4 linked regions of the Homo sapiens genome follow. The protein of the gene in region 3 interacts with the protein of the main gene of each other region in a biochemical or structural test. Each region holds a gene or a part of one and is shown on either strand. Other genes may lie near its edges.

What was found.
Region 1: the proteins of CDC7 (region 3) and ORC5 form a complex in vitro, tested with the Homo sapiens proteins (one large-scale study listed by BioGRID and IntAct).
Region 2: the proteins of CDC7 (region 3) and MCM10 form a complex in vitro, tested with the Homo sapiens proteins (one large-scale study listed by BioGRID and IntAct).
Region 4: the proteins of CDC7 (region 3) and PGK1 form a complex in vitro, tested with the Homo sapiens proteins (one study listed by BioGRID).

What each region holds. Positions count from the first base shown.
Region 1 is NC_000007.14:104,131,514-104,135,013, forward strand, and holds part of ORC5 (origin recognition complex subunit 5), read right to left. Parts: intron 1-3,500. UniProt on the Homo sapiens protein: Component of the origin recognition complex (ORC) that binds origins of replication. DNA-binding is ATP-dependent. The specific DNA sequences that define origins of replication have not been identified yet.
Region 2 is NC_000010.11:13,206,558-13,209,083, forward strand, and holds part of MCM10 (protein MCM10 homolog), read left to right. Parts: intron 1-2,526. UniProt on the Homo sapiens protein: Acts as a replication initiation factor that brings together the MCM2-7 helicase and the DNA polymerase alpha/primase complex in order to initiate DNA replication. Additionally, plays a role in preventing DNA damage during replication.
Region 3 is NC_000001.11:91,502,425-91,508,324, forward strand, and holds part of CDC7 (cell division cycle 7-related protein kinase), read left to right. Parts: intron 1-5,429; coding exon 5,430-5,513; intron 5,514-5,837; coding exon 5,838-5,900. UniProt on the Homo sapiens protein: Kinase involved in initiation of DNA replication. Phosphorylates critical substrates that regulate the G1/S phase transition and initiation of DNA replication, such as MCM proteins and CLASPIN.
Region 4 is NC_000023.11:78,121,248-78,124,747, forward strand, and holds part of PGK1 (phosphoglycerate kinase 1), read left to right. Parts: intron 1-1,587; coding exon 1,588-1,702; intron 1,703-1,947; coding exon 1,948-2,127; intron 2,128-3,500. UniProt on the Homo sapiens protein: Catalyzes one of the two ATP producing reactions in the glycolytic pathway via the reversible conversion of 1,3-diphosphoglycerate to 3-phosphoglycerate.

The DNA.
Region 1 (3,500 bases), on a different chromosome or scaffold from region 3:
AATAATAACCCTCTCTCAACCACATAACCCCTTCAGCAGTTATAATCCTCTCTCTTGGCCAGACACAGTGGCTGATGCCTGTAAACCTAGCACTTTGGGAGGCCGAGGTGGGTGGATCACCTGAGGTCAGGGGTTTGAGACAAGCCTGGCCAACATGGCAAAACCCCATCTCTACTAAAAATACAAAAATTATTTGGGCGTTGTGGCACACGCCTGTAATCCCAGCTACTCGGGAGGCTGAAGCAGGAGAATCACTTGAACCTTGGAGAAAGAGGCTGCAGTGAGCCGAGATCGTGCCACTGCACTCCAGCCTGGGTGACAGAGTGAGATTCTGTCTCAAAAAAAAAAAAAGAAAAAGAAAAAAGAAAAAAAAATACTCTCTCTCCTTTATAGCAAATAAATAAGTAAATAAATGAATCCTAGAATACAGGCTAATAAGAATAGGATATAGCTATGTTATACTTGTTGCTGTATCTCCCCAAAGCCTACCACAGTGTTTTGTTTATAATGGGCAACACAATAAATGTTAAATAAACGAATGAAAAACATTATCTCTCTTTGCTACATCTACTTTCTCATAAATACTACAATATGACTTCTACTTCATCATACCACTGAAAGTGTTCTGGATAAAGCTACAAATGACTGCTTTATCAGTAAATCAGAGGATTCTGCTTGATTTCTTGGTGACAACTGACTTTTGACCATTACTCCTGTCCCTTACAGTTTCCTAGTTTTCTTGTATATGCAACTTTATATGAACTGTTACATGCACTTAAGCTTACATCATGAGTTATTTTCCCAAGTTACTATCCTTCAAAAGTGTGATTTTCAATAACTCTATAAAAATACATGATGCTATTGATTGACTGCCATTTTAGACATTTAGGTTATATCCTGTGATCCCTATTATCTCATTTGTTCTCTGCCACAGGTGTCTGGAATGAGGCCAGCCTTCCTTTTCTTTGGTAACTATCCTTGGGACTTCCTCTCCCATCAAGCCTTGATTTGGAATGAGACTGTCTCTGAGCTCCCTTCTTGCTGTCCCCAAAAACAAATTCATATGGTTCCCCTTCATCTGAATTTTTACTGCTAATCACTATAGGAAAACATGCAATATTTATTTAGCACATACTAAGTTTAAAGCACTGTGCTAGGTTTGAGGATAAGGCAGTGATAGACATAAACACAGTCTGCTTTGAGCTTAGGAGCTTGTATTCTAGAAAGAAAGATGAACTCTAATTACTCAATTATTTAAGTAAAACTTGTTACATATAATGAAGAACAAAATGGGAACTTCCAAATCGTGTGTGTGTGTGGTATGGGGGGGTGATCATGGTGGTTGTGGTATTTGTGAGAAGGCGTCTTTAAGGAGCAGACATTTAAACTGAAATCTAAAGGTTATGTAGCAGTTAGCTAGGTGAAGGAGAAAAGAAGCTGGAAAATGCTGTATATACAAGCATGGGAAGCAGAATGGTGAATATAAAAAATGGAAAAAAGTGGTTAAAGTGCAGATACCGAGGAAAGAAGGTGTATGTGCTAGATGGGGCTAGGCACAGGTAGGGGCCAGATCATTTGGGCCTTGTTAGTTATTTAAAAGATTCTGTTATTTATCCCAAGAGCTATGGGAAACTACTGAATATTTTTAATGAGCAGGGTGACATTAAATTTTTATAAAATCATTCTGGCTACAGCATGGATAATAAATTATAAGAGGATAAGAGCAGACAGAAGATCAATTAGACTGTTAGAGAAGAGATGATGGTGGCTTGATCTAGAGTGGTAAAAGTATCATGATAACAAGTGAATGAAATTGAGACAAATAAGAGGGGCTTTGTAAGCTCAATAGGACTAATGGTTAAATATTAGGAGTGGGGGAGAGAGAGATGTCAAGAAGGACTCAAATTTCAGGCCTGGGTAACACAGCAGACTGCAGTGCTTATCACTGAAATAAGAAACACTGGAGGAAAGCCAGATATTTCACTTTTTGTTGGTGGGTTGAAGCAGAGGTTAGAATTCCTAAGTTCAGTTTTGGAAATGTATTAATATAGCTGGGAAACAGCAATAAAGGTCAAGAATATTATAAAAAATAGGTCTGGTCTTTAAAAACAGGGGCATTATTAATACACAGATGATTGTTGAAGTCACAGGTGTGGCTCAAGTTGCCTAGGGAAAAAAATGTAATATGAGAAAAGAGCCTAGGGCCAAGCCTAAAGGAACAGTTATATTTAAAGGTCAGATGGTAAAGATAGCCTTTGTTAGTAAAAACAACCAAAGAATAAAGAGGAAAACCAGAATACTGTGGAATCATGTCTAAGAGAAGAGAGTTTTAAGAAAGAGTAGCCAACAGTGTCAGGTGCCACTGAGAGGACAAACAGCCGAGACTAACAAAGGTTCTGGGAAAGTGGAGGAGATGGAATTCAGAGCATAGGTAGAAGAATCTACCTTAGGAAGAGGAACCCCATCCTGCTGAAAAAGGAAAGAAAGAGAAGATGGACACTAACACAGGTAGCTCAATTCTCAGTTGATGGCTTCAACCTTGTTCTGTGAAACAGAGTGAAGACTGAACAGAATGAACTCAGGCGTTAGAATGTGGGGTTTAAACAGAGTCAAGAATTTAGGTGGAGGCTGGGCGCGGTGGCTCACACCTGTAATCCCAGGCCTTTGGGAGGCCGATGCAGGCAGATCAACTTGAGGTCAGGAGTTCAAGACCAGCCTGGCCAACATGGTGAAACTCTGTCTCTGCTAAAAATTAGCCAGGCATGGTGGTGTGTGCCTGTGATCCCAGCCACACAGGAGGCTGAAGCAGGAGAATCGCTTGAACCCGGGAGGCAGAGGTTGCAGTGAGCCAAGATCGCACTACTGTACTCCAGCCTGGGCGACAGAGCAAGACACTCCATCTCAAAAAAAAAAAAAAAAAAAAAAAAAAATTAGGTGGAAAAGAAGTCTGGATACCAGGTGCCCTATTATCTCAATACATGAGGTGGAATGGCTGAAGAGACAAAAATCAGTCTTAAGGAGAATAGGGAAATAGAGCCAGATTGCATGAGTCTCAAGGAAGTCCACATTTTTATAAGAAGTTGGGGGCAGTAACAGTCTGGAAGTGGCAACAAGAAGGATGGCACCGAAATGACCTCCAACCCTGAGGGATTAGGGTTTGAGAAAATACATAGCTACAACTAGAGGTAAGTCCAGGGGAAGCAGCATCCCAAAGAAGGAATCAGGTTTTAGCTAAGGCAATGAGGAAGACTATTAGGAGAATAATAATTCCTAAGGCACATGGGAGGGAGGGAAAGAATGAAAGGTAAAGTCAGCAGAAAAGAAGTACAAAACACAGGGATGAGAGAATGGAAGAGGGCAGGTGTGGGGAGGAGCGGGTGCTTATTCTATGGATATTGCCCATGGGAAGTAGGGAACAGTAAAGAAAACAAAAGAAAGTTACAGAGCCCCCAAGTTCTATGTCAAGATTCCAGGTCTAAAGTTCTTGCTTCCTTCTGAGG
Region 2 (2,526 bases), on a different chromosome or scaffold from region 3:
ATTTTTCACAATCTAGATTATAATTTTTAAGTAGTTATTTATATATTGATACTTGACTTTTTTCCAAACTAGATGACTAAAAATGTCATTATAGCAAGAGCTTATGGAAAACGTTAGAAAAATTAAAAAAAATTCTGTTTATTAAGTACAGGGCACAAATGGAAGGGCATGATGCCTTTCAGCCTCCAGATGGCACTGTGATTGTAAGAACCATGTTTTTTCTGGACTTTTTGTCAGTTGCTTTTTTTTTTTTCCTTCTTTTTTTGAGACAGGGTCTCACTCTGTCATCCAGGCAGGAGTGCAGTGCCATGATCATAGCCCATTGCAGCCTTGAACTCATGGGCTCAAGCGATCCTTCTGCTTCTGCCTCCTGAGTAGCTGGGACTACAGGTGTGCACCACTACACCCAGCTAATTTTTTTAATTTACTTTTTTTTATAGAGACAAGGTCTCACTATGTTGTCCAGGCTGGTTTCAAACTCCTGGGCTCAAGTGGGCTCAGCTGCCCAAAGTGCTGGGATTGCAGGCCTGAGCCACCATGCTTGGCTAGTTCTTGATCTAGAACAGAAGGCAGCACACATTGCCTGTAAAATGTCAGTGGTGAATATATTAGGCTTTGTGGGCCAGATGATCTGTCACAACCACACGGCTCTGCTGGTGCAGCCTGAAAGCAACCATAGATAATACACAGGCAACTGGGCACGGCTGTGTTCAAATAAAACTTTATTTATAAAAACTGGTGATGTGCTGGATTGGGGTTGTAGTTTGCTGACTCCTAACTAGAATAGTGATTTTTTTTTTCTCACAATTTTATCATTGATCGACATATAGGCTACCAGAGTTCTCTTCATTGATACTGAACCAGTCTCTAGAGGTGGAAGGTGATGGTTGGGAGGTTGTAAGGGCTAAGGCCACTGGCGTGCCACCTTTCAGGGCAGAAATTGTGATATGGTTTGGCTGTGTCCCCACCCAGATCTCATCTTGAATGGTAGCTCCCATAATTCCCACAAGTTGAGAGAGGGACTCAGTGGGAGGTAATTGAATCATGGGGCAGGTCTTTCCCGGGCTGTTCTCATGAAAACAAATAAGTCTCATGAGATCTGATGGTTTTATAAAGGAGAGTTCCCTGCACACACTGTCTTGCCTGCCGCCATGTAAGACATGCCTTTGCTCTTCCTTCGTCTTCCACCATGATTGTGAGGCCTCCCCAGCCATGTGGAACTGAGTCCATTAAACTTCTTTCCTTTATAAATTACCCAGTCTTGGGTATGTCTTTACTAGCAGCATGAGAACAGACTAATGAGAACGAGTAGACTCTAAGCTAGGTAAGGGGAAGGGGAGACAGGCAGAGCATCCCCACCCCACCCCAACCCTCTGAAATCCAAGTAAGCAGGCAGACATACTTCCTTAGCTTTATTATATGTCTTCTCTCTTTCTCTCTCTTTTTCCCAGAGTAAACTTCATAGGAAATAAGTTTTCACCATAGTGTTCACATCCCTTCTCAGGGTGGAAGTCACCCACCATTTTAAAAACTAGAGCAAGAAGGGCTGGACTTGGTGGCTCATGCCTGTAATTCCAGCAGTTTGGGAGGCTGAGGCAGATGGAACACTTGAGCCCAGGAGTTCAAGACCAGCCTGGGCAACATAGTGAGACTCCCCATCTCTACAGAAATTTAAAAATGAGCTGGGCATGGTGGTGTACACCTTTGGTCCCAGCTACTCAAGAGGCTGAGGCAGGAGGATCACTTGATCCCTGAAGATCAAGGCTGCTGCAGTGAGCTGTGATCGCACTACTGCACTCCAGCCTGGGCCACAGAGTGAACCCTGTCTCTAAAAAAAAATAAAAACAAAACAAGAGTCCCTGGGCCCTTTGAATAAAAAGAGAGTAAAGAGGCTGGGCACAGTGGCTCACGCCCGTAATCCCAGCACTTTGGGAGGCTGAGGCAGGCAGATCACTTGTGCCCAGGAGTTTGAGGCCAGCGTGGGCAACATAGCAAAATCCCATCTCTCCAAAAAAAAAAAAAAAAGGAAAAGAAAAGAAAGTGAGTAAAGGCTTTTGGGTTATAAAGAGAAAGGGAGAAGGATGATCCAGACTAGAAAGAAGATTATTCCTTTCTTAGCTCAACCTTTTTGCTCCAAAAAAAAGAGGAGGAAGGGGCCAAACATAGATTATCCTGCACCAGAGGGCCAGCTCCTTAAATCTGAGTCTCATCCCAACCACCATCATTTGTAAAAACCAAGGGTGCATTCATTACCTGCAGTGCGTGGATCCCTGTGGTGCCATCATTATCATTTGAAGCTCCATCTCTGAAGCCTCTAGCTTTGTAAGGACCTACAGACCACTTCCCAAGTCATTGCAGGTTTATTTTTGTCGCATTTGAGCATAACCTCAGATTTGGCATACAATACGAATGTCACCTTGAACAGCTTCTCCTTGAATGGGGGCCTACTCTCCCCAGGTGCAGTGAGCACCGTCGTCTTTACATGAGTGGGCCTACACCACCCTGCTGAGTAAATCCATCTGTTCT
Region 3 (5,900 bases):
TAGAGGAATTCTAGTTGACTGTATTTTTTTTTTTCTGAAAGGGTAGCCAGATCATCTTTCCCATCTTTGTCTTAAGTGAATTCTGTGCTTGTCTAAAAGATACTTATTTTGACCTTTTGTCCATATATTCTTTATAACCCCACCCTAGAAAAATATGACATCACATACTTTCTGCTTTGATGGAAGTCAGTTATCCCACTTACCTAAACTTGAAACTTTAATCTTCAGCTGATGCTTTTTATTTGTTCCCCATATCGTCACCTAGCTTTATTTCTTTTTAGTAAGTATGGCATTGTGTCTTCTTTCCATTCCCATTTCCACCACATTAATTAATTTCCTTACACTTTGTTCCTGATTTACAACAGTTTCTCACCTATGCTGCCTGCTTGCACTTTTCCATTCTTCAGTTCATCTTGTATGTTGGTGCTAGAATAATCTTAAAATGCCACTTTCATCCAGTTTCATGGATACTGTTCCTCTTCCTTTCCATTTTTCCAGCAGTTAGCTGTTTTTTTAGTTCATCTTTCCCTTACTAGTCACTGGACACATAACACAGTAACACAGTCATTGTAGTATTCTTTTTCTATTGCTTAGGACTCTGCATTTTGTCTCCACTGTAAACCCCTTGGCGGCAGTATCTCCTCTGGTTTCTAAAGTATGTTGTGACTTCAGCAGAGTATCTGAATGGATGACTCTGAATTGGTTCTAGCATCATGTTTAGGAGAATGCCACTATTCTAATATTCTGAAAATCTGCTGGGAAGTAATGAATGGGGTGAATTTTATTACGGATTTCAAAAGTTTTGTAGCGTTTATGTAACAGAACATTGGACATTATAATATGATAAATTATAAAACGTGCTAAAACTTTACTCTTATGGTTCTTTTTTAAATATGATCTTAATAACAGCTAAAGTTATATAAACATAACTTCAATAGGGAGCAAAGCTGATGAGGTCCAGGCACATAACAGTCTAGTAATCTAATTGGGAAAGTAAATCAAATTAGATCATGAGACAGGTATATGCCTGCACCTCATCAACTTTACTCCTTATTGAAGTTATATTTTTGATTGGATGTTTTATATATCTTAGCATTCCCAGAGCTTAACAGTGTCCAGCACATAGTAGGTGCTTGAAAATATTTGAATGAATGATTTAATGTAAGGATATAAAGTAAAATACTTAGTGTAATGGATGAATAGCATGTCTCTTTATTTTGAGATATTTGTCAGATTTTTATAACATTTTTCTGATAAACATGATTATTGAAATTTTTGAAGTAAAGAAAGCCAAAATAAAGTCTTTTCCCATTATTGAAATATTGCCACTGTTGACATTTTGTTATATTCCTTTAGCCTTTCTAGGCATACATAGGTACATTTTTTAGAAACTAAATTGGGATCTTGTTTTGTTTTTGTTTTTGAAAAGAGAACCAGAATATGGGATCTTATTTCTGATCTCCATTTTTTTTAATATATATCTTGAATATTGCTCATGTAGTAAATATTCTACAACTGGATTTAAGGTCCATTGCATATTATATTATAATATATTCAATCACCTTTTACTATTGACCCTATAGATTGTTTCTATTTTTTCCTATTAAGAAAAATGCTGTAATGCACAAACTATCTGGCATAATATTGGTCAAATGTTTATTCTTTCACTGTTTTGGCAAGCTTTTTTTTTTTTTTTTGAGACATGGTCTCTCTGTCACACCACTGTCACTGGAGTGCAGTGGTGCAATTACAGCTCACTGCAGCCTTAACTCCTGCACTCAAGCAATCCTACCCCCTCAGCCTCCTGAGTAGCTTGGATTACAGGCATGTGCCGCTACACTCAGCTAATTTTAAATATTTTTTTTAGAAACAGGATCTTGCTATGTTGCCCAGGCTGGTCTCAAACTCCTGGCCTCAAGTGATCCCCTCCTATCTTGGCCTCCCAATGCACTGGGATTACAGGTGTGAGCCACCATGCCTGGCCAGTAAGCTTTTATTTTTTTTTAAGTATCTACTATATGCCAAGTTTTAATAAGTGAGAAAGATCTGTTCAGTGAAAGAATGATGTATAAACTCTATATTGAAAGTCTCCTCCATACTGGTGAACTCTACTGGAAGGAAGGCTTGCTTCATTCTGTTTGCTACAATGACACCCTTAGCCATGCTTCTAAAATGGGCTATGGGTACCATCTTTGTTTGCCTGGGACAGATCTAGCTTACGGCTATTGTCACAATGTAATTATTATTCCTGCTGCCTTTTCACTCAAGAGTGTCCCAGTTTGGGCTTATATTATGTATTATCCCCTAGTTCCAGGAGGTATAAACCAGAGAGTACATGAAGCCCCAGAATAACCATGACTATATGCCTAGAGTGTCAGTTTTAATCCATGACAAGATATTGAAAACGTTTCATTTATGTGATGAATATTTATTGTCTGTTATATACATGTACTTTTTTAGGTGCTAGGGATAAATCAAACCATAAAACAGAAATTAACACTGTGGTAGTTAGACAATAGACAGAGAGTAAACAAAAGAAGTAAATACTGTGCTCAAAAGTGATTAATGTTACTAAGAAAATGTAAAAGGGAAGGGGAGATAGGAAGTATTGGGGAAGGAGATTGTAATTTTAGTGAGTATGGTTGCTCATAGCCTTCTGTAACATTTGAGCTAAGACTTCAAGGTGGTGAAGGAGTGACCTGTGCAGATATTTGGGGAAGAGCATTCCAAACAGAGGAAACGGCAAGTACAAAGACCCTGAAACGGCAAGTACAAAGACCCTGAGATGGGAGTGTGCCTAGCATTCAAGAATAGCAAGGAGGTCATTGTGGCTAGAATGGGGAAGGTAATTGGAATGAAGTCAAAGAGAGATGTAAAGAGGCTTTCTAATGGAGTGAGATGTGAAACCATTAGAGGTTTTGAGCACAATAGTGACAAGGTGACTTAGCTTTATCAGAATACTCTGTTTAAACTCTGTTTGCTATGTTGCAAGCCGACTGGCTACTATGTTACAGATAGACTCCAGGCTGGCAAGGAGTGTAGTTAAGGAGACTATTGGTATATTAAAACCAACTTGGATATATTATGCAGCAGAAAACAAAAGTGACTTAAAATGTCAAAATAGAAGCCTAGACCTTCATGTATAAAATAGAGGCATTTAAATAATTTTTAGCATATTATAGATTTTCGGGATCCTCCTCCAGTCCTCAAAGTCTGTTTCATTTGTCTGTCTTTAGTACTGTTTTCCAGCTTTTGACATGAATGCACTTTTCTGCTTTCTGCTGTCATTTCCCACTTCAGAATTTGAGGATATTGCATTCACTTTGGTTGCCAGGAAGTTTTACTGTTGTTTAAAATTGTTGAAGTTGTTCTGAAGTGACAGGAAACCTTAATAAACATTTTGATTTTTGTAAAGAGGAGTAGATGCATAATAAGTGAGTAGTGGTGTGGAAGTACCCTTAATGTTTCTCCTCCCTTTCACATCTGTTCTCCACTTGTCATTTTTCTGCTTAAAAACTTCCTATAGCTTTCATGTGCATTCTCTCTTGTCTTCCTCAGCCACATTCTATTTCTATTATTGTTATTATTGTTATTATTATTGAGACAGGGTCTCCCTCTTCCATCACCCAGGCTGGAGTACAGTGGCACGATCATAGTTTAGTAACCTCAAACTCCTGGGCTCAAGGTATCCTTCTGCCTCAGTCTCTGTAGCTGAGACTACAGGCCCGTGTTACAAAGCCCAGCTAATTTTTGTTTGTTTGTTTGTTTTTTAGCTTTTTTAAGAGATAGGGTCTCAAACACCTGGCCTCAAGCAGTCTTCTTGCCTTGGTCTCCTAAAGTGCTGGGATTACAGGCCTGAGCCACCGCCCCAGGCCACATTGTATTTCATTGTCTCTCAGCCCTCCCCCTACCCTAATCATCCAAGCCTTTTTTTTTTCTTGTTCCTGTCTTTACAGACGTAGTTAATTTTTCCTAAAATGTTTTCTTCCACTTTCACTACTTGGTGAATGCTTCAGAACAAAACTTAGCTGTCAACTGAAGGCTTCCTATCACCTTCAGAAATCCTCCCCAACCTAGTAGTATATACATTCTTTTATTACAGGTGTCACCTTGTATTAAGAATGATAACATGTTTCCTTTACTAGACCAAGCTCTTAGTGGCTGCATCAAATTTATTGGTTTTTTTTACATACCCATTGCTGAGCATTTTTTAAGACAGCGTTTATTTAAATGAATTAGTTCTAGCCAGGTGCGGCGGCTCACACCTGTAATCCCAGCACTTTGGGAGGCCAAGGTGGGCAGATCACTTGAGGTCAGGAGTTCAAGACCAGCCTGGCCATTGTGGTGAAACCCCGTCTCTACTAAAAACACAAAAATTAGCTGGGCGTGGTGTTGCGTGCCTGTAATTCCAGCTGCCCATGAGGCTGAGGCATGAGAATCTCTTGAACGCAGGAGGCAGAGGTTGCAGTGAGTGGAGATTACATCACTGCACTCCAACCTGGGCAACAGAGTGAGACTCCATCTCAAAAAAGAAAGAAAATTAGAAAATATATATAATCAGCAACACCTCTGTGAAATTGGGCAAATGATTTAACCTCCCTGAATTGAGTTTCCTTATCTGAAAAATCAGGATAATCATTCCTGCTCTGCCAAGTTCACAGTACTGTTAGGAAGACCTCAAAAGATACTGCATGTGCCGGTGCTTTGAAAATGTCTTAAACTTATGCTATATAGGGCTAGTAGAGCCTAGATACTGTAATAAAATCTGAAGACTTATCTAGTTCTCTTCTGTATCCAGTAGTTTACTGGGTTTTGTATTATTGCCTCCCCTTGTTTTAACTATGTACATTTTTATAAAGAACTGATACTTATTTAAAAGTAGCAATTTATCTGCAGTCAAGGATAGAGGATACTACTGGCAATTGGGACAAATTTTTAAAAATACTTTTTTACATGCTTGAGAGCTTTAGTAGGCCTTCTCTCTGAAAATATAGTGTGAATATTTAATACATAAAATTTTACCAAGCCTTTAAGATTTTGTATCTTTACGGGAAATAGTTTTCAAGAACATCGCAATGTGTCCTTGTCATGCCATCTAGTGATCACAGCACAAATTGTTTAGTTATTTTAAAAATTTGGTGCTTTTTCATGTTGTAATCTCTACAGTAACAATGTATCTCTTAGTATATAATTCCAGTATAGTAGAAATTTGGTGTATTTAATTCTGGGACTGTCATTTTTGTCTGTTCAAGAGGTGTGTGTGAGTTATAGCAACTTGATGGGTTTTAATCTTATCACAATGTTATTAAAACTTATGTATAATTAATTACTCATATTTTATAATTTATTTCATTGAGCTTTTTAAATTTTAAGAAACTGTAAAATATACTGTCATTGATTAAAACTCTAAATTTTTGTTTCCTTGAAAGGTGTTAAAAAAGATATTGAGAAGCTTTATGAAGCTGTACCACAGCTTAGTAATGTGTTTAAGATTGAGGACAAAATTGGAGAAGGTAATCTGGGGATATGCTTTTACTATTTTTACGAGGTCTTTTTTCCATTCTATTTTCCTTTTTTAGTCTTGGTTTTCATTACTATTTCTTATTGAAAAATATACCACTTTTTAGACTATTAAGACCATAGTTTTATTACTAATTATGGTAACAGCTTTTCTTTTTCAACCTTAAAGAAAGAATAAATAATAAATATTTACTGTAAAATGAAGTCCTGTTTTAATGTATTATGCCATTGAAACAGTTTTTACAATCTATCTTAGAATTGTTTCATTAACATTTTTAAAAACCAGATATTGAAAAATTTAATAAATTGTTTTACAGGCACTTTCAGCTCTGTTTATTTGGCCACAGCACAGTTACAAGTAGGACCTGAAGAGAAAATTG
Region 4 (3,500 bases), on a different chromosome or scaffold from region 3:
GCATTGCCTTTGGCTGTTAGGTATCTCTTGTAATAATCTCCTATTTATTACTTTCATTCTGTTGATTTGTTGAAGAAACAGGCATTTGAGCTGTAAGCTATTCTTTAGAAGAAATTGAACTCCTTTCTAACTGCTTTCTTCCCTTTGTGTGTGTATGTGTGTGTGTGTGTGTGTGTGTATTTAAAACAATCTATCTTTACCCTTGGTGGTAACCAATCTTTACAACTGAAATAAATAGTAAATAGTTTCTTGCCATCTGTTCACCCACATCACTGTTGTTTCATACCTCCTTTTCACAAATCCTAGCATAGGGTTTCTCACTGGATAGGCATTATCTTGTTTATTGAATGAAGAAGGAAACAGACACAAGGTGGTTTGTCCACGTAAGTGGGATTTAGTTATATGGGAATGTTTATGGAAGGCAGGCTATTACTTTGTTTCTCTTTAGTTTGGATCTTTTTTGTCTCATAGGGAGATGCAAGATACATGTGTATTTATCTTATTTCCATGTACTAGAAAATAAGATCCCAAAGGGTAGGGATCTTTCTGTTGCCTTTGCCCTGTGATGTTTCTCAAAGACCTAGAATAGTGCTTGGCACAGAGTAGGTGCCCAGTAAATGTGTTGAATTGGGTGACCCAATAAAAATAAATGCCATAAAGAAAATGTCCCAGGCTGGGCATGGTGGCTTAGGCATGTAACCCTAGTGCTTTGGAAGGCCAAGGCAGGAGGATCACTTGAGCTTAGGAGTTTGAAACTAGCCTGGGCAACATAGTGAGACCTTGTCTCTACAAAAAAATTTAAAAAGAAAAATTATCCAGGGGTAGTGTTGTACGCCTGTGGTCGCAGCTACTTGAGAGGCTGAGGCAAGAGGATTGCTTGAGCCTAGGAGTTCCAGGTTACAGTGAGCTATGATTGTACCACTGCACTCCAGCCTCGGCAACAGAGTGAGACTTTGTGTTGAAAAGAGAGAGAGAAAAAAATGTCCCAGCAACTGAGCATAGGGTATGACTTTAGGAATATATATTTTTGTTCAGTATATATTTATTTAGTATACAGTCCAGTCAATCCCTGCTCTAAGGTTAGGATAATTCTGAGTGGCTCTGGGATCCCACAATTAGCAATCGTGCTTAGATACAATTAGCAATCTTGATGCTCTGAATTTGTGTGTGTGTGTGTGTGTGTGTGTGTGTGTGTGTGTGTGTGTTGGGGAATGTGCAAAATAGATGTGGAACCCATAGTTTCCTTAGACAAGAGTAGGTCTTCTGAGCCCTGCTTAAAAAAAGAATATGGATTTAAATCTGTTGTCCATCAGCTTCTAGGTAGAATTAAAAAAAAATGTATTGATGGTAAGTGGGGTGAGGAATTTTTAAAAAGATACACTGATGTCTGGAGCCATACCTTAAAAGGATTTCTTAGAAATGGATTGAGTTTTTGGGTTGGAGAAACATAGGGCAAAGTTAGGCAGTACTTTTGTCACTTTGAGACTTTCTCTGTTCCTGTGCCTTGAAATAGAAACTCAGTTTCTATGTAATACCACTTCTCTAGTCCATTCTTCTTTAAGTGATGATTCTTGCTTTCTCTTGTAGAGCTAAAGTTGCAGACAAGATCCAGCTCATCAATAATATGCTGGACAAAGTCAATGAGATGATTATTGGTGGTGGAATGGCTTTTACCTTCCTTAAGGTGCTCAACAACATGGAGGTAGGAAACAAATGCCAAGTGGATGTGAAATAGCTCTCCATGATAATAGCAGGTTGTATAAATGTAAAAAGAAAACAGTCTTTTGACATGAGCCCTGAAAATTCCCATTTTTATTTATTTTGGCAAGTCTTTCGTCTTTGCATTGTTCCTTTATATTGTATTGTGTCTGGTTCCTGTCTGCTTTGTGAGGCAGTCTTGTTCTTAGTATAGATGCTGACCTCCATCATTTTGGCTCCCCTGTGTAGATTGGCACTTCTCTGTTTGATGAAGAGGGAGCCAAGATTGTCAAAGACCTAATGTCCAAAGCTGAGAAGAATGGTGTGAAGATTACCTTGCCTGTTGACTTTGTCACTGCTGACAAGTTTGATGAGAATGCCAAGACTGGCCAAGCCACTGTGGCTTCTGGCATACCTGCTGGCTGGATGGTGAGTCACTTGAGTGGGTTGGTAGTGTGAGTGAACAGAAACTCTGTGGTGTCATTTATTCATTGATTCAGCCAATCAACAAGCATTTTAAAACAATCTCTATAGGAGATCTGTCAGAGAGGGCTCTGCATGTTGCAGTGAGTCCCTCATGGAAGAATCCATGGGAGAAAAGCAGTGCTATTGGATTACTGGCCTTCAGTAATGCAGTAATGTGTTGCAAAACTTTGTTGTTGTTGTTTTTTTTTTTTTTTTTGAGACAGAGTCTCGCTGTGTCACCAGGCTGGAGTGCAGTGGCATGATCTCGGCTCACTGCAACCTCTGCCTCCCAGGTTCAAGTGATTCTCCTGCCTAACCCTCCCCAGTAGCTGGGACTACAGGTGTGCACCACCATGCCCAGCTAATTTTTGTATTTTTCATAGAGACGGGGTTTCACCATGTTGGTCAGGATGATCTCAATCTCTTGACCTCATGATCCACCTGCTGCGGCCTCCCAAAGTGCTGGGATTACAGGCGTGAGCCACTGTGCCCGGCCCATTTTTAGTTTTATCTGTTTTTTCTTCATCTGTTTAATGTGTATTAAGTACTTACTGCGTACTGGAGATAGTGTCATGTACTTTCATGGTTTGGGTTGTTTTGGATTATGTTGCTATCTAGAAAGCTATATAAGAAAACTTTCTCATATGAAAAAATTAAGTATACTGATTACAAGCAGGGAGAAATGTAAGTGTATATTAAAGACTAATATAGTTGATTTTAGGGTGCTCCAAATATCATTTTGATTGCTGTATAAAATTGTATCATGTTTTTACATGCTAGTTTGCTTATTTTTCTTTTCAGGCATTCACGTATTATTTAGTTCAGTGTTTCTCAAAGTATGTTCCTAAGACCAGCAGTATCAGTATCATTTTTGGAACTTGTTAAAAATGCAAGTTCTTGGGTCCCACCCCAGACCTACCGAATCAGGAACTGAGGGTGGGGCCAAACAGTCTGTTTGAATAAGCCCTCCTGGTGATTCTCATGCATGGCAAAGTTTGAGTACTACTGATCTAGTTTACTGTCATTCCCAACACTATTGACATCTGTTGTTTTGTGGGGGACTGTTGAATTGTAAGGTTGTTTAAAGCATCCTTGGCCACTAGATGCCAGTAGCACCCTCCCAAGTTGCAACAACAATATTTCTAGACATTGCCACATGCCTATCTATTATGAAGGGGCAGAACTGACCTGGTTGAGAACCATTGATCTAGTTTTCACTAACATAAATAGTGTGGCTAAGAATGTCTTTATTAAATAACTTTTGAGGTTTTCCGTTAGACTTGATCTTCCATACAGTAGAATTTTTGAGTATAAAGGGCATGAACAGGTTTATAAAG